Linked DNA regions of Homo sapiens. The protein of the gene in region 6 purifies or fractionates together with the protein of the main gene of each other region. This does not show direct contact. Each region holds a gene or a part of one and is shown on either strand. Other genes may lie near its edges. The genes, in order: CGRRF1, ETFB, ACAD9, TIMM21, GMPPA, EYA2 and GPI.

What was found.
Region 1: the proteins of EYA2 (region 6) and CGRRF1 purify together in Homo sapiens (affinity purification with mass spectrometry, with the first as the bait; one large-scale study listed by BioGRID). This does not show direct contact.
Region 2: the proteins of EYA2 (region 6) and ETFB purify together in Homo sapiens (affinity purification with mass spectrometry, with the first as the bait; one large-scale study listed by BioGRID). This does not show direct contact.
Region 3: the proteins of EYA2 (region 6) and ACAD9 purify together in Homo sapiens (affinity purification with mass spectrometry; 3 studies listed by BioGRID and IntAct, with this or other methods). This does not show direct contact.
Region 4: the proteins of EYA2 (region 6) and TIMM21 purify together in Homo sapiens (affinity purification with mass spectrometry, with the first as the bait; one large-scale study listed by BioGRID). This does not show direct contact.
Region 5: the proteins of EYA2 (region 6) and GMPPA purify together in Homo sapiens (affinity purification with mass spectrometry, with the first as the bait; one large-scale study listed by BioGRID). This does not show direct contact.
Region 7: the proteins of EYA2 (region 6) and GPI purify together in Homo sapiens (affinity purification with mass spectrometry; one large-scale study listed by BioGRID and IntAct). This does not show direct contact.

Annotation. Positions count from the first base shown.
Region 1 is NC_000014.9:54,523,406-54,526,905, reverse strand, and holds part of CGRRF1 (cell growth regulator with RING finger domain protein 1), read right to left. Parts: intron 1-3,500. UniProt on the Homo sapiens protein: Able to inhibit growth in several cell lines.
Region 2 is NC_000019.10:51,352,889-51,356,388, forward strand, and holds part of ETFB (electron transfer flavoprotein subunit beta), read right to left. Parts: intron 1,955-3,500; exon of another isoform or gene 1,751-1,954; coding exon of another isoform or gene 1,421-1,750; coding exon 1,262-1,420; intron 403-1,261; coding exon 244-402; intron 1-243. UniProt on the Homo sapiens protein: Heterodimeric electron transfer flavoprotein that accepts electrons from several mitochondrial dehydrogenases, including acyl-CoA dehydrogenases, glutaryl-CoA and sarcosine dehydrogenase.
Region 3 is NC_000003.12:128,882,620-128,886,119, reverse strand, and holds part of ACAD9 (complex I assembly factor ACAD9, mitochondrial), read right to left. Parts: intron 1,468-3,500; coding exon 1,374-1,467; intron 1-1,373. UniProt on the Homo sapiens protein: As part of the MCIA complex, primarily participates in the assembly of the mitochondrial complex I and therefore plays a role in oxidative phosphorylation.
Region 4 is NC_000018.10:74,155,023-74,158,522, forward strand, and holds part of TIMM21 (mitochondrial import inner membrane translocase subunit Tim21 precursor), read left to right. Parts: intron 1-122; coding exon 123-185; coding exon of another isoform or gene 186-202; intron 203-283; coding exon 284-381; intron 382-2,991; coding exon 2,992-3,065; intron 3,066-3,148; coding exon 3,149-3,254; intron 3,255-3,353; coding exon 3,354-3,458; 3' UTR 3,459-3,500. UniProt on the Homo sapiens protein: Participates in the translocation of transit peptide-containing proteins across the mitochondrial inner membrane.
Region 5 is NC_000002.12:219,504,690-219,507,489, reverse strand, and holds the end of GMPPA (mannose-1-phosphate guanylyltransferase regulatory subunit alpha), read right to left. Parts: intron 2,637-2,800; coding exon of another isoform or gene 2,622-2,636; intron 2,263-2,621; coding exon 2,128-2,262; intron 2,033-2,127; coding exon 1,935-2,032; coding exon of another isoform or gene 1,776-1,934; coding exon 1,729-1,775; intron 1,511-1,728; coding exon 1,418-1,510; intron 1,237-1,417; coding exon 1,068-1,236; intron 793-1,067; coding exon 692-792; 3' UTR 501-691; downstream 1-500. UniProt on the Homo sapiens protein: Regulatory subunit of the GMPPA-GMPPB mannose-1-phosphate guanylyltransferase complex; reduces the catalytic activity of GMPPB when part of the complex. Mediates allosteric feedback inhibition of GMPPB catalytic activity upon binding GDP-alpha-D-mannose.
Region 6 is NC_000020.11:47,187,094-47,189,344, reverse strand, and holds the end of EYA2 (protein phosphatase EYA2), read right to left. Parts: intron 1,293-2,251; coding exon 1,212-1,292; 3' UTR 501-1,211; downstream 1-500. UniProt on the Homo sapiens protein: Functions both as protein phosphatase and as transcriptional coactivator for SIX1, and probably also for SIX2, SIX4 and SIX5.
Region 7 is NC_000019.10:34,378,696-34,382,195, reverse strand, and holds part of GPI (glucose-6-phosphate isomerase), read right to left. Parts: intron 3,263-3,500; coding exon 3,191-3,262; intron 2,679-3,190; coding exon 2,634-2,678; intron 731-2,633; coding exon 677-730; intron 1-676. UniProt on the Homo sapiens protein: In the cytoplasm, catalyzes the conversion of glucose-6-phosphate to fructose-6-phosphate, the second step in glycolysis, and the reverse reaction during gluconeogenesis.

The DNA.
Region 1 (3,500 bases), on a different chromosome or scaffold from region 6:
AGGATCCCTGTGAGAGAAGCAGTAATAAAACAAGGAGACCATTCATGAGGATAATAAAGCCAGAGTATTGGGAGATGAAAGTTTTAGGTTGTAGAGAATGGAGGTTCACAAACGCCTCCAAACATGCCATGTACATTGTGTTTTTTTCTAACCCTTTTGCTTTAATGTTAGCTCTTACCAGAGTGAATAAGCTAAAATATAAGGAAGCTATTTACAAAAAGCAGAATTCCTGAATCAAATTAATTCAACTCAACTTATATACACTGAGTATCTAACTTTCAATTTCATTAAAGACTCTATATTGGAGACATGGAAACGCAAATCCAAATATATCATTACATAATAACAACAACAAAAAAATCCCAGCAACCCACCCCTAGTAAACAGAACTAAATGACTCAGATTAAAATCGATTCTCTGGTTTTCTTTTTTTTTTAATTATAAATTTTAAAATATGGCCAGGGCGCAGTGGCTCACACTTGTAATCCCAGCACTTTGGGAGGCCGAGGTGGGCAGATCATGAGGTCAAGAGATTGAGACCATCCTGGATAACACGGTGAAACCCTGTCTCTACTAAAAATACAAAAAATTAGCTGGGCATGGTGGCATGCACCTGTAGTCCCTGCTACTCAGGAGGCTAAGGGAGGAGAATTGCTTGAACCTGGGAGGCAGACGTTGCAGTGAGCCAAGATTGCACCACTGCACTCTAGCCTGGGCGACAGAGCGAGACTCCGTCTCAAAAAAAAAAAAAAAAAAAAAAATCTTAAATATAAATAAAAAGCATGTGTGTTTTTTTGTTTTTGTTTTTTGAGACAGGGTCTCACTCTGTTGCCCAGGCTGGAGTGCAGTGGCATGATCTCAGCTCACTGCAGCCTCAACCTCCCAGACTTAAGCAATCCTCCAGCCTAAGCCTCCTGAGTAGCCGGCACTAACAGGCATGTGCCACCACGCCCAGCTAATTTTTGTATTTTTAGTAGAGATGAGGTTTCGCCATGTTGGCCAGGCTGGTCTTGAACTCCTGGACTCAAGGATCCGCCCGTCTCAGCCTCCCAGAGTACTGGGATTACAAGCATGAGCCACCACGTGCAGCCTCTGGTTTATTTTCAAGTTAAATCAGGTCTCTAGATTATTCACCCTCTTCTGCTATATGTCAGGCAGTTTGGGTACAGTGGTGAAAAAAAGATTTTTAAACTATCTACACATCAAATGAAATAACTTTTTTAAATGTCACAAATATTGTTACAATATTATTTTAATGTTCTGTATAGACATCTTTAATGATACCCACTTTTCCACAGTTTAAACAAATGAATTTTACTCTGTTGAGTATAACTCCTATCAAAATCCTTCTATTTCCCCATAGGAGAAAGATAATAAATGATATGCATCGGTATTTTAAAAATTAAAATATTTCAGTATTCATGCTGTACATCCACACATTTAAATAATTTTTCATGACTTCAGTAATACTACTGTTGGTTAGCAACTAGTGTGCAGGCATAGCTAAGAGGGCTACTTACTGGCTATCTTTTCATTTGCCTCAAACATTCGCAAGGCTGGTTCTATTTGTGACTATTTCTGCCTGAAAAGCAGATTGATGGATTTCCTCACACTTTCTGCCTCACAAGTGCCCTGTGTTTTGCTCACAATGTATCAGCTCTTCTTAGTTTTTCAGTGTATTTTCAGACCTGTGGAACTGTACTGCAGGAAGGAAGGCCTTGCAGCTGGTAGGTTTTTCATTGCGGGTCCTGCTCAAGAGCCAGATGTGACATTGTAGCAGGTTCTAGCCTATGGCCACAGAGGTGGGAGGTTATTGAACCACCACTATGCTGTACACTTGATTTTTTATTTTATTTTTTGAGACAGAGTCTCACTCTGTCACCCAGGCTGAAGTGAAGTGGTGTGATCACGGCTTACTGCAACCTCGACCTCCTGGACTCAAGCAATCCTCCCACCTCATCCTCCCGAGTAGCTGGTAGCTGGGTGTACACTTTAATCAGGCATGCACAACCTACTATCTTTTAAACAAATTAGTTTTATCTGTGTCATATCTCAAAATTTGGTTTTCTCAAGTAAAAAATATCAGAATGAACTGTTATCTATTATAGGGAAGGAGCGGGGAGGGGAGTGGCCGAGATCCTAGTTTCCATCAATTCATAGGGTAATAGTATTTACAGCTAAAGAGGATGAATAAGAAATTTTGTACTTTTTGGGGCCAAGAACAGTGGGTCACGCCTGTAATCCCAGCACTTTGTGAGCCTGGGGCAGAAGGACTGCTTGAGGCCAGAAGTTTGAGACCAGCCTGGGCAACACAGCAAGACCCCATCTCCACAAAAAACATTTTTTTTTTTATTTAGCCAGGCACGGTCATGCACACCTGTAGTCCCAGCTACTCAGGGGGCTGAGGCAGGAGGACCACTTGAGCCCAGGGTATTGGGGCTGCAGTGAGGTATGATCATACTACTGCATTCCAGCCTGGGTGGAAGAGCAAGAGCCTGTCTCGAAAAAAAAAAAAAAAAACATATATTTTTCCTTACAAATCAAGATTTACTTAAGCCTGATGATCTATTTGACTAAGTAAACTGATTTCTGACCAGTTATTAGATTCTGAGAGTTAGAGGCAGGAAAGATGAATAGACAAGAATGGTCCATAGACGCAAGGGAGCAGGACGTTGCAAATGAAGGTCAACTCTGTAAAATACTAGAGAGAGAGCATTAACTCAGCCCTGAAAGGCTCCCACTGGATTTGATGACTGCTGGGGGTCAAAAGTGCAGGGCAGAAGTCGTAATTAGTGACCTCAGAGAAAGCCATTTCAGTAAAGGGATACAGGGAAAAGTCAGACTGCACTGCACTGAGGAGTAAAAATGAAGCAGGCTAAGAGAAGGAAAATGCAAACAGCTTCTAAGAAGCTGGCTGTGAGGGGAAGAAGAGAAATACGGCAGTAGCTAGACTAGGATGAAAAGCAGAGAAAGATCTGGCTTATTTGTTTTCAAGAAACCAGAAATGTAAGCAAGTATAGAAGGGACAGGGTCTCGGCCCAGAAAAAAAGCTACAGAACTGTATCTAGGACTGCCTACTCTTTATTTCTATTGAACTGTCACGAAAGAATTTCAAAGTCCAAAAGTTCAAAATTGAATTCATTGCCTTTCTTTGGAAACTTGCTATTCTTTCTGTACTCCTCATTTTTCTAACAGGATCTGGCTATGGAGGACCCATAGGAAGAACCTGAGTCTTCTTAGACTCCTCTGTTACCTGTCCCATCCTATGCTTTAGCCATAACTACTGTTTCTTTAATGTATCACTCCATTTCTCATCCACGAAGTAAACACCTATCTTCCAAGATTCTACTCAAAAAAAAAAAAGGAGGAAGGAATAAAGAAAAAAAAAGTAAGAGAGACTCAGCATATTCTTTTTTATGAAGGCTTTCCTGAATATGCCTCTTCACCTTAACAAATTTAAGCATCTCTTTCTTTACAATTCTAATGGTTCCTATATGGTC
Region 2 (3,500 bases), on a different chromosome or scaffold from region 6:
AAGTGCTGAGATTACAGGCGTAAACCACCGTGCCTGGCCCAAGAGGATCTTTCTAACACCCAGAGGGACTCTGTCCTCCCTGCTCAAACTCTCTGTCAGAAGGGTCAGCAAAGTCCCAAGCTGCTCAGCCTGGAGTGGTGAATGCCCTGGGCCTGGCCAGCTGCTGTCTCACCCCGTATCTCCACCACCCTCCTCCCGAGCAGGGATGAGCAAGGGGGCACAGGGAGGGCTGACCACAGCTACCTGTTTGCCCAGCAGCACCAGGTCCACCTTCTCCTTCTCTGCCAGCTTGGCCAGGACCCGAGCCACCTGCAGGGGACCCAAGCGTTCTGCTTCTGCTGGGGGCACCTCCACGTGGATACCTCGGTCTGCACCCATGGCCAGGGCGGTACGAATCGTCTCCTGCCAAGGACAGAGGGGCTTGACTTGGCTGCTATCCTCAGGGGGACCTAGGAGTCTGGCTCGCAGCCCCTCCTTCCTCAGACCCAGGAGTCCAGGGCCCCATCCCCTCCTTCCTCAGACCCAGGAGTCCAGGCCCCCATCCCCTCCTTCCTCAGACCCAGGAGTCCGGGCCCCCATCCCCTCCTTCCTCAGACCCAGGAGTCCGGGCCCCCATCCCCTCCTTCCTCAGACCCAGGAGTCCGGGCCCCCATCCCCTCCTTCCTCAGACCCAGGAGTCCGGGCCCCCATCCCCTCCTTCCTCAGACCCAGGAGTCCGGGCCCCCATCCCCTCCTTCCTCAGACCCAGGAGTCCGGGCCCCCATCCCCTCCTTCTTCAGACCCAGGAGTCCAGGCCCCCATCCCCTCCTTCCTCAGACCCAGGAATCCAGGCTATCAGCCCATCCTCCCTCAGACCCAGGGGTCCAGACTTCCAGCCTCCTCCTCCCTCAGACCCAGGAGTCCAGGTCCCAGCCCCTCCTTCCTCAGACCCAGGAGTCCAGGGCCCCATCCCCTCCTTCCTCAGACCCAGGAATCCAGGCCCCCATCCCCTTCTTCCTCAGACCCAGGAGTCCAGGGCCCCATCCCCTCCTTCCTCAGACCCAAGAGTCCAGGCCCCCAGCCCCTCCTTCCTCAGACCCAGGAGTCCAGGCCCCCATCCCCTTCTTCCTCAGACCCAGGAATCCAGGCTATCAGCCCATCCTCCCTCAGACCCAGGGGTCCAGACTTCCAGCCTCCTCCTCCCTCAGACCCAGGAGTCCAGGTCCCAGCCCCTCCTCCGTCAGACCCAGGAGTCCAGCCCCCTCCCCAAGACCTTCATCACCTGGCACTGTGCAGGCCCACAGCTGACGGCGATGACCTCCTTCACCAGCTTCTTCTCCTTGAGCCGCACAGCCTCCTCCACCGCGATCTCACAGAAGGGGTTCATGGAGTGCTTCACACCATCCGTGACCACACCGGTCCTGTCAGGCTTCACTCGGATCTGCCCAGCAGGAGGGGAAGGGGTGGGGTCAGGAGGAAACAGGCAAGAAGGTGGGGGCCTCAGCGCCAACCCTCTCCCAGGCTGGATGAGGACAACGACAGCCTGGAAAGGGGCAGGGCCTTGTCCGGGGTCACACAGCTCCAGGGACAGAACTGGGTTAGAGTTTGTAGGCAGGGGCAGGTCACCCTGTCTCCTTCTCTCATCCAGCCATTCCTGGGTACCAGGGACATCTGACTTGATCATCCCTACTGTTGTCACTGCTCCTCTCAGGCCTGAAAGAGTGTTTCTCAAATTTACAGTATTTATGGTAACCCACAGTGAGAGGTACATTTTACTGTATCTCCAAGTGTATATAAATACATAATACACTGATACATAAATACAAATGAGGAGAAGAAAAGGAAAAACCAGTTAGGTAGACAGTTAAGGGTGGTCCTCAGAGGAGCAGCCTGCCTGAAAAATCACAGCTACAGGCAACAATAGAGCAGCCTGGGGAAAACTCAAGCTGCCCAGCACAGAAGCCTTTTGTTCTTTGCGTGACTGACAGGCTCCCAGGAAAAGTTCCCTCCCCTTTTCAGGCACGTACATGGTGGTCTCTGTGGGAACTTGCACGGGGAGGGGCGGAGCTTACCTAAAACAAACCCACGGTTACAGAAACAAGAGAAGCGGAGCTTTGTGCTTGCCTAAAGACGTACCCACAACTACATAGATAACGGAGAGTTATGCAGATAGCTTTACAGATAAGATACTCAAACAGCTACAGAGATGAAAGGAGTTTCTTATAAAAGCTTTTGGTGTCTTTTGCTGTGCAGAAGCTCTTTAGTTTAACCATCAGAGTGAACAGGCAACCTACAGAATGGGAGAAAATTTTTGCAGCCTACTCATCTGACAAATGGCTAATATCCAGAATCTACAATGAACTCAAACAAATGTACAAGAAAAAAACAAACAACCCCATCAAAAAGTGGGCGAAGGATATGAATAGACACTTCTCAAAAGAAGACATTTATGCAGCCAAAAAACACATGAAAAATGCTCATCATCACTGGCCATCAGAGAAATGCAAATCAAAATCACAATGAGATACCGTCTCACACCAGTTAGAACGGCGATCATTAAAAAGTCAGGAAAGAACAGGTGCTGGAGAGGATGTGGAGAAAAAGGAACACTTTTACACTGTTGGTGGGACTGTAAACTAGTTCAACCATTGTGGAAGTCGGTGTGGTGATTCCTCAGGGATCTAGAACTAGAAATACCATTTGACCCAGCCATCCTATTACTGGGTATATACCCAAAGGATTATAAATCATGCTGCTATAAAGACACATGCACACATATGTTTATTGCGGCACTATTCACAATAGTAAAGACTTGGAACCAACCCAAATGTCCAACAATGATAGACTGGATTAAGAAAATGTGGCACATATACACCATGGAATACTATGCAGCCATAAACAATGATGAGTTCATGTCCTTTGTAGGGACATGGATGAAGCTGGAAACCATCATTCTCAGCAAACTATCGCAAGGACAGAAAACCAAACAACGCATGTTCTCACTCATAGGTGGGAATTGAACAATGAGAACACATGGACACAGGAAGGGGAACATCACACACCGGGGACTGTCGTGGGGTGGGGGGAGGGGGGAGGGATAGCATTAGGAGATATACCTAATGCTAAAGGACGAGTTACTGGGTGCAGCACACCAACATGGCACATATAAACACATGTAACAAACCTGTACGTTGTGCACATGTATCCTAAAACTTAAAGTATAATAATAAAAAATAAATAAATAAATAATTTTTTAAAAAAAAAGCTTTTGGAATCAACTGTAAAAATGGCAACCCGCTTGGGCTTCCCTCTCCTCTGTGGAGAGCTTTCTTCTTTTGCTTATTAAACTTTCGCTCCAACCTCACCTTTTGGGTGGTCTATGCTCTTTAATTCTCTTGGTTGTGAAACGAGCTCGGATAACACCTTAGACAACGTGACCAGTGACCCTGACCTATTTCACAAATGCCACTGCAGTGTAAGGGTCAGTGACCAATACTGACCCTGCCTACACACACACCATA
Region 3 (3,500 bases), on a different chromosome or scaffold from region 6:
GAAAAACAAAAACAAAATATTTTTCATTAAAAATATTATGTTAACATGTAATGGATTTATTATTTTTAAACAAATGAACACAGTATATTTTATTTTTTTTTTTTAGACAAAGTCACACTCTGTCACCCAGGCTGGAGTGCAGTGGTGCAATGTTGGCTCACTACAATCTCTGCCTCCTGGGTTCAAGCAATTCGCCTGCTTCAGCCTCCTGAATAGCCGGGATTACAGGCACCCGCCACCATGCCCGGCCAATTTTTGTATTTTTAGTAGAGACAGGGTTTCACCATGTTGGCTACGCTGGTCTTGAACTCCAGACCTCAGGTGATCTGTCCCCGTTGGCCTCCCAAAGTGCTGGGATTACAGGCGTGAGCCACTGCACCCAGCCCCACAGTATATTTTAAATTTCTCAGTTTTAATTTCTAAGAGGGGCTAGGCATGGTGGCTCACACCTGTAATCCCAGCCCTTTGGGAGGCCAAGGTGGGAGGATCACTTGAGCCTAGGAGTAGAGACCAGCCTGGGCAATATAGTGAGAACCTGTCTCTATGAAAAATACAAAAAAATTAGCTGGGCATGGGGGTGCGCACCTGTAGTTCCAGCAACTCAGGAGGCTGAAGTTGGGGGACTGTTTGAGCCTGAAAGATGGAGGTGGTGGTGAGATGAGATGGTACCACCACACTCCAGTCTGAGCAACAGAGCTAGGCCCTTTCTCAAAAAAATAAAGTAAAATAAAAATAAAATAACCCCTAAGATGGCAAATATTGATAGATAAAATTCATATAAACAAAAGCTCTCCAGGATCCTACTATTAGGGAAGACCTGCTGTCCATCCACCATCACTGAACTCTCCACCAAGGCCCTGGCTGGAGGACCGGCCAACAGCTCTGAGAGAGGGACCTGAGGTCAAATGCTGCCTCACCATGCAGGTGCCAAACTGTGGCTGGTCCACAAATCACTCTTTGTTTACAATTACCAAAGTACAGAAATTGAAACTCAACCTTTAGAAACACTAAGAGCAACTGTACACTGCCACAACAACCAACACATGCTCCATGGGCTTGTATGGTGTGTGGCCTTGGCTTTTTGCCATCTAATTTTTTTAGTTATTCATTTTTATTATAGCTTTATGGAAGTGTTGACCTGGAACAGTATGGAAATGTTTAAAGTGCTCCTGAACCACAAATACAATGAGAAGCATTTAACTGGATGTTTTTTAATTAAATGGCAATAGGGATGAAACCTAAAGCAAAATATTATGAGTGGAAACCATTTCTCCCTCAAGAAGACTTCTCCTATGTATGTCACTTCTAATATAAATATCAACCAAATAGCCCTTACAATGGAAATCGGCAATGGTAAAGAAAACCATACATACCCTCTTCAGTGAAGAATTTTTCCACGGGTCCCAAGAACTGATTGATTTCATTAAGTTCATCTTGGCTAACTTCTGGAAATGGGAAAACTTCTTTCTAAAAATAGTAAATATTTTCTAAAAAATTTAATTTTTAGCACACTCCCATCACGGAAATATCAGTTAAAAGGGAAGGAAAAACATGTGCTCCACTCCACCCTGGCCAGCGGGACATGACGTACTGAAGGAACTGGAAAGCAAACCTCACAAGGTTCCTGAGATACAGAAACTATGTGCAGGCTCCACCACCCACATCCATCTCCCTCCCCTGTTCAAATAGGTTCTTCCCGATTTTCATCAGTTTTCCTTCTCAGTACAAGGGATGATAATAGTCCCATGAAACAAGGAGCCCAAGACTAACATTTAGAAGCCTGGGGGTCTGGTCCTTGATTTCAGGCTTACTCATTATGTGGCCTTCACCAAATCCCTTCAGCTCTCTAAACTACCCCTTTCTCACCCATAACATGCAGGTAATATTTACTCAAGGCCCTTGTGAGAATCGTGGAAGATAGTGGATGTGGAAACTCCTTACTGAAATGGACAATTCTACATCAATTATTGTGTGAGCTCAAAGATGCTATGCTGACAAGAGCACATCATGCTTACCAAGTCTCATCGATCCCTACAGCCGCTGTCTCTCCTGCTCACAGACATCTGCTCCCTGTGCTGAGCCCCTCTGGACTTTTGGGCTCTGCTACCCCTTCAATTGCCAGCATGACATGAGCTTTGGATGTGGGCTTCAGGCTGTTGAGCAGTGATGTCCTGAGTCAGAGCTATAAGCCCAAGCATCACCTGTCCTCATGGCGCCTCTCACCAAGTGTTCTAGAGAAGTCTTGGGGAGACCTCAACCTTCTCCTCAGACCTTGTACAGCTAATCAGCCAACAGATTTCTCTACTCTATCAATATGCTCGCACTGCTTTCTCCTCTCTGGGCCCAGGACCACAGGCTTATAGGTGAGTCCCTAACTAAAAGTGACAGCCAACTTAAAGGAATCCCTGCCTCCATCCATTCCAAAACCACCCTGAAGGTGGTATAGAAAAAAAAAAAGGTTGGAGGCCAGGCACGGTGGCTCACGCCTGTAATCCCAGCACTTTGGGAGGCCGAGGCGGGCGGATCACGAGGTCAGGAGTTTGAGACCAGCCTGACCAACATGGTGAAACCCCGTTTCTACTAAAAATACAAAAATTACACGGGCTTGGTAGCACGCGCCTGTAATCCCAGCTACTCAGGAGGCTGAGGCAGGAGAATTGCTTGAACCCGGGAGGTGGAGGTTGCAGTGAGCCGAGATTGCGCCATTGCACTCCAGCCTAGGTGACAGAGTGAGACTCCATAAAAAAAAAAGAAAAGAAAAAGAAAAAAACAAGCTTAGCTGGTTGCAGTGGCTACTGCCTGTAATCCTAGTCCTTTGGGAAGCTGACGCAGGGGGATTGCTTAAAGCCCAGGAGTTCAAAACCAGCCTGGGCGTGGTTGCACACGCCTGTAGTTCCAGCTACTCAGGAGGCTGAGGTGGGAGGATCCCCTGAGCCTGGGGAGGTTGAGGCTGCAGTGAGCTGTGATTGCACCACTGCACTCCAGGGTGGGCAACAGAGTAAGACACTGTCTCAAGGAAAAAAAAAACAAGAAAAAAAAAAAAAAACAAGCTGATGGCTCCATCACTCTGCAGCCTTTTATATCAAAGCTCAGTCTCCTTCACTGAACACAGAGGCTCACTGACACTTGGGTCTTGTGCAATGGGCTGTGTTAGAGATCATTCTGGTACCAGTGGGCAGGCCAGATAAGACTGCCTGGCAACTAATTGGCCTTCAGGTACAACCACAGAAAACCTGCCACACAGGAGAGATTGCAGGGGCGTGGGAGAAAGATCCTGATGTTATCAAATCAGGTCAATGCCTTAGGGGAGGAGAGTTCAATTGCAATAAACAGTTTGTAAATTATCTAAAAAAGTGGAACCTGTTATTCAAAGAAATCTAGTGCAGAAACCAAATATGTAAAACAGACAGAAGCAGGCGGCTCTGACTGAGACTGCTGATAGGGAAAACAGGCACCCAAATCCCACCCACTCAACTTCCCACCCATCCCTGCAGCAGTTC
Region 4 (3,500 bases), on a different chromosome or scaffold from region 6:
ACACACAGACCCCTTGCTTTGATCTGGAGGCTGCTTTTCTCTCGCAAGAAGTGCAAAAGCAGCAGACAAGCTTGCCTGCTCCCAGCCGGCACCCGTAACCCATTGGTGTTTTCTCTTCACAGTGAAAGAAGCCGGAAGAGATTTTACCTATTTAATAGTGGTGCTTTTTGGAATCAGCATTACAGGTTGCAAAAAACAGCAAGTATAAGCCCTTGAATATTTTTTAAACTGGACTTTTTATGTTGCCCTTGCTTCGCTTCATCTTTGTTTTCTGTGATTTCAGGTGGCTTGTTTTACACGATTTTCAAAGAACTTTTTTCTTCATCCAGTCCTAGCAAGATATATGGGAGAGCCTTAGAAAAATGCAGATCACATCCTGAGGTTAGTTCTCAAGATTGAGTTACATGAACTCTGATGAGGGGGAGAAAATGTCTGGGAGGAGGAAGTGGGCAGAATTCAAGAACCAGTTCTCACGCTAGTGAAATTCACATAATAATACATAATGGTCGAGTCATCATTACATTATTAGGTCTTTGCTCTTTAAGAGAACCCAAAAGTCAGTGTACAGATGTTTTCATGCTAATTGTACAAGACAGTCATTTTGCTGGTTGTTCATAGATACTAAATTTTTAGAATACACCAAAATATTGAACTCATGGTAAGTTTCTAGTCTTTTTAAAGCCTGATGCATGACCTCATGGTCATAATGTCATTGCTGACACTTACCGAAAATGTGTCCGTGCAAGCACTCTGCCCAGGGTCTCAGTGCATCATCTTTATTCAGTCTCACAAAAACCATTTGTGTTCGGCACTACTTTGTCTTCAGTTTGCAGAAGGGGAGACTGACACTTAAAGAGATTAAGTAACTTCACCAGGATCACTGAGCTAGTAAGTGGGGGAACCGGAACCCGAATCCACACAAATCCAAAATTTGCTTCCAAATCTAAGCTCTTAAGCACAGTCTGCCTCTACCCTTCCCTGGGAGGAGTGGACATGGGGAAGCTGCCTTGGTTCTTTGAAGGACCCTGTCAAGAAGGAAGGCTTTAGATGTGACCTTCCAGTCACACGTAGCCGGTGTGGCCTGGGAAGTGTCAGATTTCTTACTCCCTGCTGCAGACCTTCAGCACTGAAAATATTACTCATTGAAATACAACTTCATTCACCCTGAAAGATAACAGCAGGTAATCGTCTGCCATTATCATCATAAATATTAGGGCTGTTCTTCACACAGACCAAGGAGTAATGTCATAGCTCGCATTTGCAGCCCCTGAAGAGGAGAAAGATTTCAATCCACAGCGTGCTCAGTATAGAGCCCGGTGCTGATCTTCCCTGGGGCCCCGGCTCTGAATGTTCTACCAGTTTTCTAATCATGTCAGGGTGGAAACCTCAGAAGCTAACGATCTCTGGCATCTTTCCTTTTAAATCCACTGATTTCTCTTCATTGAGCTCTGGACAGCCAGTGGTAACCATGGAGAAAGGCAGGGAGGATAAAGTATCTCAGAGGTGAAAACCAGGAAATAAGGAAGGTTCGTTCCCATAATAGTTACTGGGAATCCAAATTTTATCTGACAAGAAACATTCTTTACAGACTCCGGAAATACCTGTGGGTGGTAACCTCATTAAATGTTAGGACGCATCTCTGGAAAGAGATGAAGAGTTGCTGTTTTATTCGCAAACTCAGCCTTTCGTAGATTTTTCAGCATTTTGAACAAAAAACTCCACAAGAATATACAAAAGTGGGATATTATTGAAGTCGTAACTTCATTTGCTGCCTGAAAAAACTCTACAAATAATAATTAAACTTTAACAATTTTGTCAACATTTTTTAAGGGGTACCCTTCTCTTTGCTGGGTACTGTGTCTGCTTGAAAAACAAAATCTTGATGGATGTTGATATTTATATGTTTAATAGATTAAAGTAAATTGTTCTATTTGTTTGTGCTATACAATTCTGCAATATCATCTTACATATTACTTCTTTTTATCCTGGAAAATGTGATACTGAAGATACTCCACAAACAGACAAAATAAGATAAATTTCGTAGAGTTGAGGGTCAAACTTTTTTAGTTTAATATCAAATTTATATTTTTTAGAGGGTTCCACAGTATTTGCATTTTGAATTCAATAAAAACTACATTTCTACTTCATGTGGATTTTCTCATTAGAAATAGTAGATTCACACCTGTAGCTCTGATTTATTTTAAATGTCATTATCTGTTTTCTTTTTCCTCACTGTGTTTGGTAACTTTAAAAATTTTTTGATCTCATAGTTTTAGTATTAGATGCTATTAATTAATTACATTTCATTAAAAATGTTCATACATTTTATCTTCAAACCATAAGGGGTTAGTAGAGAAACATCTGAACTCTGTGTTGTTATGTTTGTTTTCTGTAAGAGGAGCAGGAACTGCGTCATGTCAACCTACATTGCTTTGAAACTACAAGTCACACCATAAAGCTACCTATTTTAATCTTTGTGCATGAAATATTTGTTTAAATTATTTATGGGATGATTTTTGTATAATAACCCTTTTTTCAGTTTTCTTATTGGAGTGGTCATTTTTTTATTTGTTTGTTTGTTTGTTTGTTTTGAGACGGAGTCTCGCTCTGTCACCCAGGCTGGAGTTCAGTGGCACGATCTTGGCTCACTGCAGCCTCTGCCTACTGGGTTCAAGCGATTCTCCTGCCTCAGCTTCCTGAGTAGCTGGGACTACAGATGCGCATCACCATGCCCAGCTGATTTTTATATTTTTTAGTAGAGACGGGGTTTCACCTAGTTGGCCAGGCTAGTCTTGAACTCCTGACCTTGTGATCCACCCATCTTGGCCTCCCAGATTGCTGGGATTATAGGCGTGAGCCAGGAGTGGTCATTTTTGAAAAGGTCCTAAGCTTACTGATTTTTTTTTCCTAAAATCATCTGGTTTGTTAAAAATTATTTCTTTAGAAGCTTAAAAAAATAACACAAAATAAAGCACTGTCCTTGTTCTGCAGGTGATCGGTGTCTTTGGTGAGTCTGTTAAAGGCTATGGGGAGGTGACAAGGCGGGGTCGCCGGCAGCATGTCAGGTACTGTGGCTTGAATTCAGAGGAGGCTCTGGGGAGATTTTTAAATGAAAGGAACTTAGACTGATCTTTCGTTTTCTCGACAGGTTCACTGAATATGTAAAAGATGGGCTGAAACACACGTGTGTGAAATTCTACATTGAGGGCTCTGAGCCAGGGAAGCAAGGAACGGTGTATGCGCAAGTGAAAGAGGTGTGGGAATCATGGGATGTGGGGTCAGAGGTTCTGAGCGCGGTGTTATTTAAGTTCTGGAAAGGAAAATAATACCTGGAAACACTACATTTTTTTCAGAACCCAGGAAGTGGTGAATATGATTTTCGATATATATTTGTAGAAATTGAATCTTATCCTAGAAGAACTATTATCATTGAAGATAATCGATCCCAAGATGATTAAAATAGGGTTTCTGATGGATGTTGAATGGCGTGGACTCGCTAC
Region 5 (2,800 bases), on a different chromosome or scaffold from region 6:
TAGAAGACAGAGACATGAGGCCTCGGGCAGAGGCAAAACCCCCACCCTGCCAAAAGCCAAGCTGGGAGCAGATGGAGCTGGCAAAGCGGAAAACCGGCCAGGGCTGGGCTCAGCGGGAACCGAGCAGAGCGGGCTGTGGGGATCAGCCTCTAGGCCTGTGGCCCCAGTTCCTCTGCCTGCTGCCCAACCAAAATCCTTCACCCTTCCCTTCGGAATCCTTGCACATGGGGGCCTGAGCCAGGCCCGGTGAGGAGGAACAGGGAGGCAGGGAGGCAGGGGTGAAGGGGGGGACCAGGCTGGCAGGGGAGCCTAGAGGGCCTTCCTCCCGAGCAGCACGAGGCTGAGGCAGTGGGAGGGGGAGATTTACCAGGGCTCCAGATTCATTATTCATGAGCCCACAGCAACGACTCCAATTTAAATGCTAATGTGGGGGGGCCTGACTCAGCTGCCCCGCTTCCGCCCCCACCCCCAGCCCAGACATAAGTACAGTCTGTGCTGGCTCCAAGGTTCACGGGGTTTATTAGGGAGTCGGGAGGGAGAAAACCCAGGAGTCCCCAGGCCATCCACATTGCTCCCCGGCATGTGACGATCCAGCCTGGCTTTCTCTGGTCCTTTCTGGACAGAGGCTGGCCAAGCAGGCAGCAGCCTCAAGGGGAGTGGGTAGGAGCTGGGGGCCTTCTGGCAGCCCTACTCAGAGGATGATCTGGTTGGTGAAGCTTCGGCTCAGCTCCTTGTGTGGCAGAACAATCGAGTTCAGGATGAGCACCTCGGCAGGGATCCGGACTCGGCAGCCTGCAGCATGGATGAGGGCACCAGGGGAGGTCATGGGAGGGGAGACAGGGGCAGGGAGCTGGGGGCCACTGCCAGCAGGGAGGGAGCCCTCCTGCCCATCTGTGCCCCTGGTCTCATGCCCCCGGTGACTCACACAGGGCCTGGCACACAGCAGGCCCTTGGTAACTGTTTGCTAAAAGAAGAAACACGCGTGCACACAGAGGAACGAATGCTCCCCGGGGCCACTGGCCATCAGCTGAGGGGTTCCCCCAGCCCTGGCCCCCAGGAAGCCATACCCAGGATGGTGATAGCAGGCAGCAGCTTCCCGTCCTTGAAGAGGCTCTCACTGTCCATGCGGGCTCGGGGATCGTTGGGGTTAGGGTCACTGGGGGTACCCTCCACGCGGGCCCAGCGTCCCACGGTGCTCCCCCAGCCCACGATGCTATGCAGAACACACGTGTGCTCCTGCCAAAGAGGACAGTGAAAGGTAAGGGGAAGAGGCAGGAGGCAGCAGGAACCGGAGGGTGTGAGGTGTGGCCAGATGCAGAGCCCACGGCGTTCACCCTTCTCTGTTCTTGGGGGGATGCCTGGGCCCTCCCCGCAGCCTCTTGGGGTGTCACATGCTGCTGTGTATGCTGGTACCTACCTGCAAAGTGGCTCCATGGAGGACGATGCTCTCCCGGAGCCGCACACCCTCACCCACGGTCACCCCCTTCCCGATGGAGACGTTGGGGCCCAGCTGTGGAGAGAAGCACACACCATAAGCCCTGGAGGGACTTGGAGGATCCCCAAACCCAACTCCCTTCTAGAACAGATAAGGCATAAGTGACCTGCTCGAGGACACACAATAGGCTGTGACAAAGTGAAGAAACCGGCACCCAGAACTCAGGCAGCGTGGGCACCCTCCATCCATCCGACCACCACCCTTCCCTCCCTGGGGCTGGGACCAGTGCTCACCACAGCCGAGGGGGCCACCTTGGCGGTCGGGTGGATGTACACATTCCCTAGAAGCAGAAGAGAGGCCCTGGGGGCAAATATCCCAAACCGAATTTGATCAGGAAGGGGCAGGGATTGAGGCTTTAACTCTGGACTCGAGGTCAAGAATCCTGGTTCAGAGGGCTGGGGTGGAAGCCAAAGGTTAGGAATTGGGGCAGGCTGGGTACCTCGGATCCATGGGCCCCCTGGGGTGTGCTTGGCCAGCCGTTCTGGGTGAGTGTCCTGGTATCGGCTCAGGTAGAGGCGGGAGGCGTAGAGGGCTGAACTGGGGACCGCAAGGGGGACAGGGGCTCAGGGGTCAGCAGGGCCTGTGCCCACCACCCCAAAATTTCAATCCCCAGGGGACCCAGCCTTCCATACCCTGCGGACTTGATCTGACTCCAGATACCATCAGTGAGATGCACGTATATCTGGCCCTGCCCTGCCAGGGCTGAAAACACATCCTGCTCTAGGCGGATGGTACCTGCCCCTGGCCACAAGCCTGGTGAGTCCTCCCTGGCAGAGAGGAAGAATGCTGACATTAGTCCCCCAGCTGAGCCCCGACTGTGGGGCTAACACAGTCTCCCAGGGACAGGAGTAGGAGGATTCCCACCACCTCTCTAAGCCCCTCTCTCCAGGTCTGGTTCGGCCCTCTCTGGGATGTGGCTGCTCACATCCCAGGAACCTCTCCCACCCAGCCCCCACTTGGGTGGGTGCTATCACAAGGGAGCCCCAGGCAGAGGCCTGCTTCCCATCCCTGCCCCATTTCCATAAGGAGTTCCCCCCATTTTCACATTCTCATCCCCATTCAGCCCTTTACCCCCTCCAAGTTACCCTCCCCCTCATTGGATGGAATGAAACACAGACAGACTCACCCCAGAGCAAGGCAGCTGGTGAGGGCAGAGACAGTCACAGAAAGAAAGGGAGAGAGAGATGGTAGAGATGCCAGCTCAGCAGAGACAGAGACAGAGAGGCCAGGAGAGATGGAGAGGGAAGCAGAGACACGGGTGGGAGTGAGAAATGGCTATGAGCAGAGGAGGCCTTAGATGGGGCG
Region 6 (2,251 bases):
TTCTTTCCCTTGGAGGATCAGCTTGTTCAACTTGCTGTTCGTGACAGGATCCAACCCTAAATCCAGCTCCGTGAGTTGCCTAAGCCTCAGATTTGGCCAACGAGTTACAGTCCTGAGGCTTTCGCTGCACCACGGTGAAGAATGTGGTCTCTTTCTGTCTGTGTGGTTTTGCTGAAGGACTCGTAGAGCCGTCTTTGCCACACAGGGAACAGCCTGCCTGAGAATTACGGCCACATGAGAGAAATTCATTTGACCACCCGGATCCAGACAGATACCACCTAAAGTTCCTGGAGACACTTGTCCCTTTGTCCTTCTTCCCCTCCCTTTCTGCCTCCCTCCTTTTCTCCCTCTTCTCCTTCCTCCCTCCCCCCACCCCATTTTTCTTGGCTTAAGCCAGTGTGAGTTGGATTCTATTCTTCTGCAACTGATAAAGTCTTTAAAAAGGACAACACATTTGGAAGCCTCAAGAGTGGTAATAAAGTAACCACATCCTACCCCACTTCAAAATGTAAACGTGGTTTTATTTAATGCCTTTTATCCATCACAAAGCACCCATTCCTTCCCAGCATCCCCCTCTTCCTAGAAAACAAGATGTAGCGTAAGGCACGTGCACTGTCCACATGACGTCAAGTAGGTCTTTAAAAACAAAAATAAGCAATAGTCTTTTCAACAGCTTGAACTGCCTTCCTCTCTAATGTTCAAAGAATGATTGTCCCCACAAAGCACAACTTGGAGAATAGAGTGCTTACATTAGAACTGTGAACCACCCCACATACCAGTTCAAAAAACCAAACCAAACCAACGACTAAGAAACCCAGCCACACAGGTACAAGAGCATAATTCCGGAGTAATGAGACTAGTCCATAAATTAAAAAGAAGACAAGACAAACCCATCCCCTCCTCATCACCAGGCACCCCCCAAATCAGCAATTCCTTGCTTTTGTTCTGTGAGTCTTACAGAAGAGTCTAGACTCCGAGCCAGCCCTTTTCCCCAAAGTCAAATACTCCGAAGCCAATGTTGGGTACTTTCCTTCTCAGAACCCCCATTTGGACTGATGGACGGCTTCTGAGATGGTCACTGGACACGTCGTCTCGGCTGTGGGGCCCCTTCCTGGTGTCCAACATCTGGGTCTCTGGAGTTCTCGGTGGGGAGGTGGGGAAGGCGAGGGGGTCTGAGGGTGAGATGGCAGGTGGAGATGCTGCTGATCCTGCTATAAATACTCCAGCTCCAGGGCGTGCCTCAGTGCCTCCAGGTCTGCGTGGCAGGATATCCGCCAGAAAGGCATGTTGTGCTGAAACACAGAACACCAGCCACAAGGTTATGGCCCCGCCCCTGCCCCCGGGTTCCACGCCTGTGGTTAGAGGGCATGTGAGAAGTCAACCCAGTTAAGTCTAGCACGTGGGGACTTCCCAAACTATGGGGCACTTGATGTTGCTGGCAGACCCACATCTGGCCAGTACCCACCAGTATGGCCAACCATTTCTATTCAGAGCCTGCTCTGACGGGCTTATCCAGCACTGCCCAGCGTGTTCGCTGTTTGACCCTCTCGCCTCTGTTGGTACCAGCGTGGTCTTAGGCGGTGCACTGACATGGTGTTAAATTGCACAATGGGAAAGCGATTCCTTTTTAAAAATTTGTTCTTGCCTGGGCACTGTGGCCCACGTTTGTAATCCCAGCACTTTGGGAGGCTGAGGCGGGAGGATTGCTTGAGGCCGGGAATTGGAGGCTGCAGTGCTCTGAATCCTGTTACTTCAAGAAGAAAGTCACAGCTCGGTGCTGGAACCCCTCCCCAGCATTGACAGTCTCCACTGTGAACAAACAGAGCTGGTCTTGGAGAGTCTTCAGCAGGCCACTGTAGCTAGCCAGGTCAGATGACACTAATCTGTTTTCTTTATAGCTTTCGTTTTTATCTTTTCCTTTTCTTTGCAGCAGGTGGTACCTGCTTCAAGTTATTGTCATGATGTGGAGTTTTTTTTTTCTTTCTTTCTTTCTTTTGAGACAGGCTAGAGTGCAGTGACATGATCTCTGCTCACTGCAGCCTCAACCTCCCAGGCTCAAGCGATCCTCCTACCTTAGCCTCCCGGGTAGCTGGGACAACAGATGCATGCCACCACATCTGGCTAATTTTTGTATTTTTTGTAGAGATAGGGTTTCACCATGGTGACCAGGCTGGTCTCAAACTACTGGGCTCAAGCGATCCACCCACCTCAGCCTCCCAAAGTGTTGGGATTACAGGCATGAGCCATTGTG
Region 7 (3,500 bases), on a different chromosome or scaffold from region 6:
CACAGTGCCTGCATCACACCCTGCACTGCACCCCTGCACCCTGGGCTTCACAGTCAGAGCCCTCCTCACACCACTGCTGAGCTCAGGCAAGTGCACAAGGAAAGCTGTGGCTCACTGCTCGGCTCCAGCAGAGGTGGTCCCATGGACCACCTGTTGCTACAGAGGGGTCGGCAGCCCTGTCACTCAAGGCAGGGTTTGCTCTGCAAGCTGCCCCAGCCTGGCGCCTCCTCTACGCCACCCCCCCAGCTCCTCCTGCAGCTCCTGTTGCTCCTTTCCAGGCCTACCCGGTCATACCTCATGCCTCACCCTGCCCTTGGCCTTTACAGATGGTGGCTGCAGTTCAGAGAAAGGTCATCACTGAGAATAACTCACAACCTCAACTCTGTGAGCGTGGCAAGGGGGACTCGGGTTACCCCACAGTGGGTGTTGCAGGCAGGCACCCAAGGGAGTGTCATGTGGCCCTGCAAGCTCAGCCCGCCCTCAGGTGGAAGTGGAGCCCTCATCCTGCCTGGGTTGCTCTTGCCCTCCAAGCCTCTCTGAGGGCCTCTCTACCTTTCCCCAAGCTAGGTATGCAGCAGGTACTCAATAAACACTGACCTGACCTCATGGGCCTCTCAACAGCCATGACTTGGCAAAGGACACTTAATTCACCCAGTGCAGAAGTGCTTGTACTTACATCCCAGAACTCGAACATGTTTTGAGGGTCAATTCCAAACTCCTTCACTTTGGTCTACAAAAAAAAAAACAAAGGGAGAGAAATGCAAAGAAGCATTTGCTAGCGGGATGGGAACAGGAGCTCCGGGAGGCAGGGAGCTGTGCTCCGTGAGCTGAGCCTCACCTTCCCCAGAGCCAGGGATGGGGCAGGGCTGGAGCAGCCTGTGAGTCGAGGGCAGGGCCCAGGATCTGCCCACCCCAAGCTGGACACCAGATCAGTCCATGACCAGCACGCCAGTGACGTTGTGCCTGCAAAGCCCCCTGCTGAGGGCAGCTGTAACCCCGTGTGAGGACCTGGCCCACACACTGCTCTGCAACAGCTCTCACCCAGGCCTGCCTGGGACACCAGAGCATGATACCCCTGGACATCTGGGAACCGAACCTAGGACTGGGACCCAAGTGTGGGCAGGGGCCACCTACCAGGCCAGGCAAACAAACACAGGCTGAACAGCCACCCAGCCCTTCCCATGTGTGGGAGGGTGACTGCACCAGGAAGCTCTGAGGAGCCATCAGGTATTCTGGTCCCCAGGGCAGACAGGGCCAGCAATTCCTTACCTATTCCACATAGGAGGAGAAGCCCTACTGACCAGTCAGTTGCAGGCAGGCAACAGTGCTATGGTTAGCCAGCCTTATGGCGTCCTGCTGCAGCTGGGTAGGCACTGGAGGCAGAGATGTGGGGATGATGGTGGAGGGGGTGGGAGGGAGATGTGGGTGTAGTCCCCAGCTCTGACACAGCACAGTGCCCACTGGCTGACTGCTGCTGTCACTCCTGGAGCATCCCTCACTCTGTCATGCCCTGCTGAGCCTGCACAACCTCGAGGCCAGGCAGACTGTGAGAACTTGGAGACAGGAGACCCAGGTTCTAATCCTGGCATCACCTACTCATACAGTCACTAAGTGGGCCGGGTACAGTGGCTCATGCCTATAATCCCAACACTTTGGTAGGCCGAGGTGGGCAGATCACTTGAGGTCAAGAATTCGAGACCAGCCTGGCCACCATGGAGAAAACCTGTCTCTACCAAAAATACAAAAATTACCTGGACGTGGTAGTGGGCGCCTGTAATCCCAGAATCAGCAGGCTGAGGCATAAAAATTACTTGAACCCAGAAGGCAGAGGTTGCAGTGAGCCAAGATCGTACCACTGCACTCTAGCCTGAGTGACAGAGTGACCTTGTCTCAAAAAATAAGCTGGACATGGTGGCACACACCTGTAATCCCAGCACTTTGGGAGGCTGAGGTGGGCAGATCACTTAAGGTCAGGAGTCAGAGACCAGCCTGGCCAACGTGGTGAAACCCCGTCTCTACTAAAAATACGAAAATAGCTGGGCATGGTGGCGTGCACCTGTAATCCCAGCTACTCGGGAGGCTAAGGCAGGAGAATCGCTTGAACCTGGAAGGCAGAGGTTGCAGTGAGCCAAGATCACGCCACTGCACTCCAGCCTGGGCAACAGAGTGAGACTGTCTTAAAAAAAAAAAAAAAAAAAAAAAAAACAAAACCACACACACTAAGTAGGGGGCAAAATGTCACCTCCCTTCATTGGGGCTTTATGTCCTTAAGTGAAAAATGGAATGCATCCTCTACCCCTACCTAGCATGTCACATTTGGGGAGATGCTGGGCACAAAGGCCTAGGAAGGTCATGTGTATGAAGGGTTCTGTGTATCAGTCAGGCCTGGGAGACGGAAGAAGGGGTTATCGTGATCCCACTGACTCCAAGCCTCCCTCCTCAAAGCTGCAGAGGTTGAATGGGTAAATGCGGAAAAGGCAAGGAAGGCTTGCAGCCCACAGGCAACCAAACCTTCCATACCATCAGCCAAGCCAAGATCCACCAGACCTACGAACCGCGTCTCTGAGAGGCCATGACCTGGACATGCTGGGCACTCCCAGGAAGGCAGTACAGGGGACCACGGGGGCACTTACTGTGTTAGTAGACAGGGCAACAAAGTGCTTCGCCACTGCAGAAGGCTACAAGAGACAGAGCCAAGTTACCACAGCCAGCCCAGGGAGACAAAGGGTAGTCACTTCCCATCACTAGAGGAACCAAGGCCCTGCATGGGACTGAGATTCCCAGTCCTTGGTTCTGAGACTGTTGGAGAAGGCCCACATCGAGGTCAAGGTCAAGAAAGCAGACGGGTCACAGGCCGCCTGCTCATCCCATCTTACAAGCATACGGGGCTCAGGGACGTCCCTCCCCTATAAAATAGGTGTGGCCAAGAGTTCCTGCAGCGCCAAGGGCCTGCAGAGAAAGGGCCATGCAAGGGCTGTCAGCCAGCGAGAGCAGGTTCTGTCACATCTGCAAGGCTGGGTCTGACAAAGCCAAGATGAACAATCATCTCATCTAGCAAAGGCAGGCACCGGCAAGGCCGCCTTCACTTCCAACTTCAGGAGAAACACGGCCAGACTTGGTCACTCAGGGGCCCACCCTGCTCTTCCCAGCCCAGAGGCTAACCACGAGGAAGGCCCTATAGCCCACTCACATCCTTGGCCGCCTGGAGAAACCACTCCTTCGCCGTCTCTGCATTCGTGATGGTCTCCTGGGTAGTAAAGGTCTGCAACCAAAGAGAACAGCAGTGGGCGCCCGAGCTTAGGGGTGGGTGCAGGCCTTGAGCCAGGGTTCAGCAGTAGAGGCCAAGGCAATGCCCAGCTGTCCCATGGAGCAGTATTTGCAGGTCAGTGACAGTGACGCCACATAACCTCCTGAGATTCCAGCTCTTTAAAACCAGAGGAGGGGGGACGGTAAACACACCCCCCAACCCTAAGCCTGCAGGTCAAAGGCCGCAGCTTCTC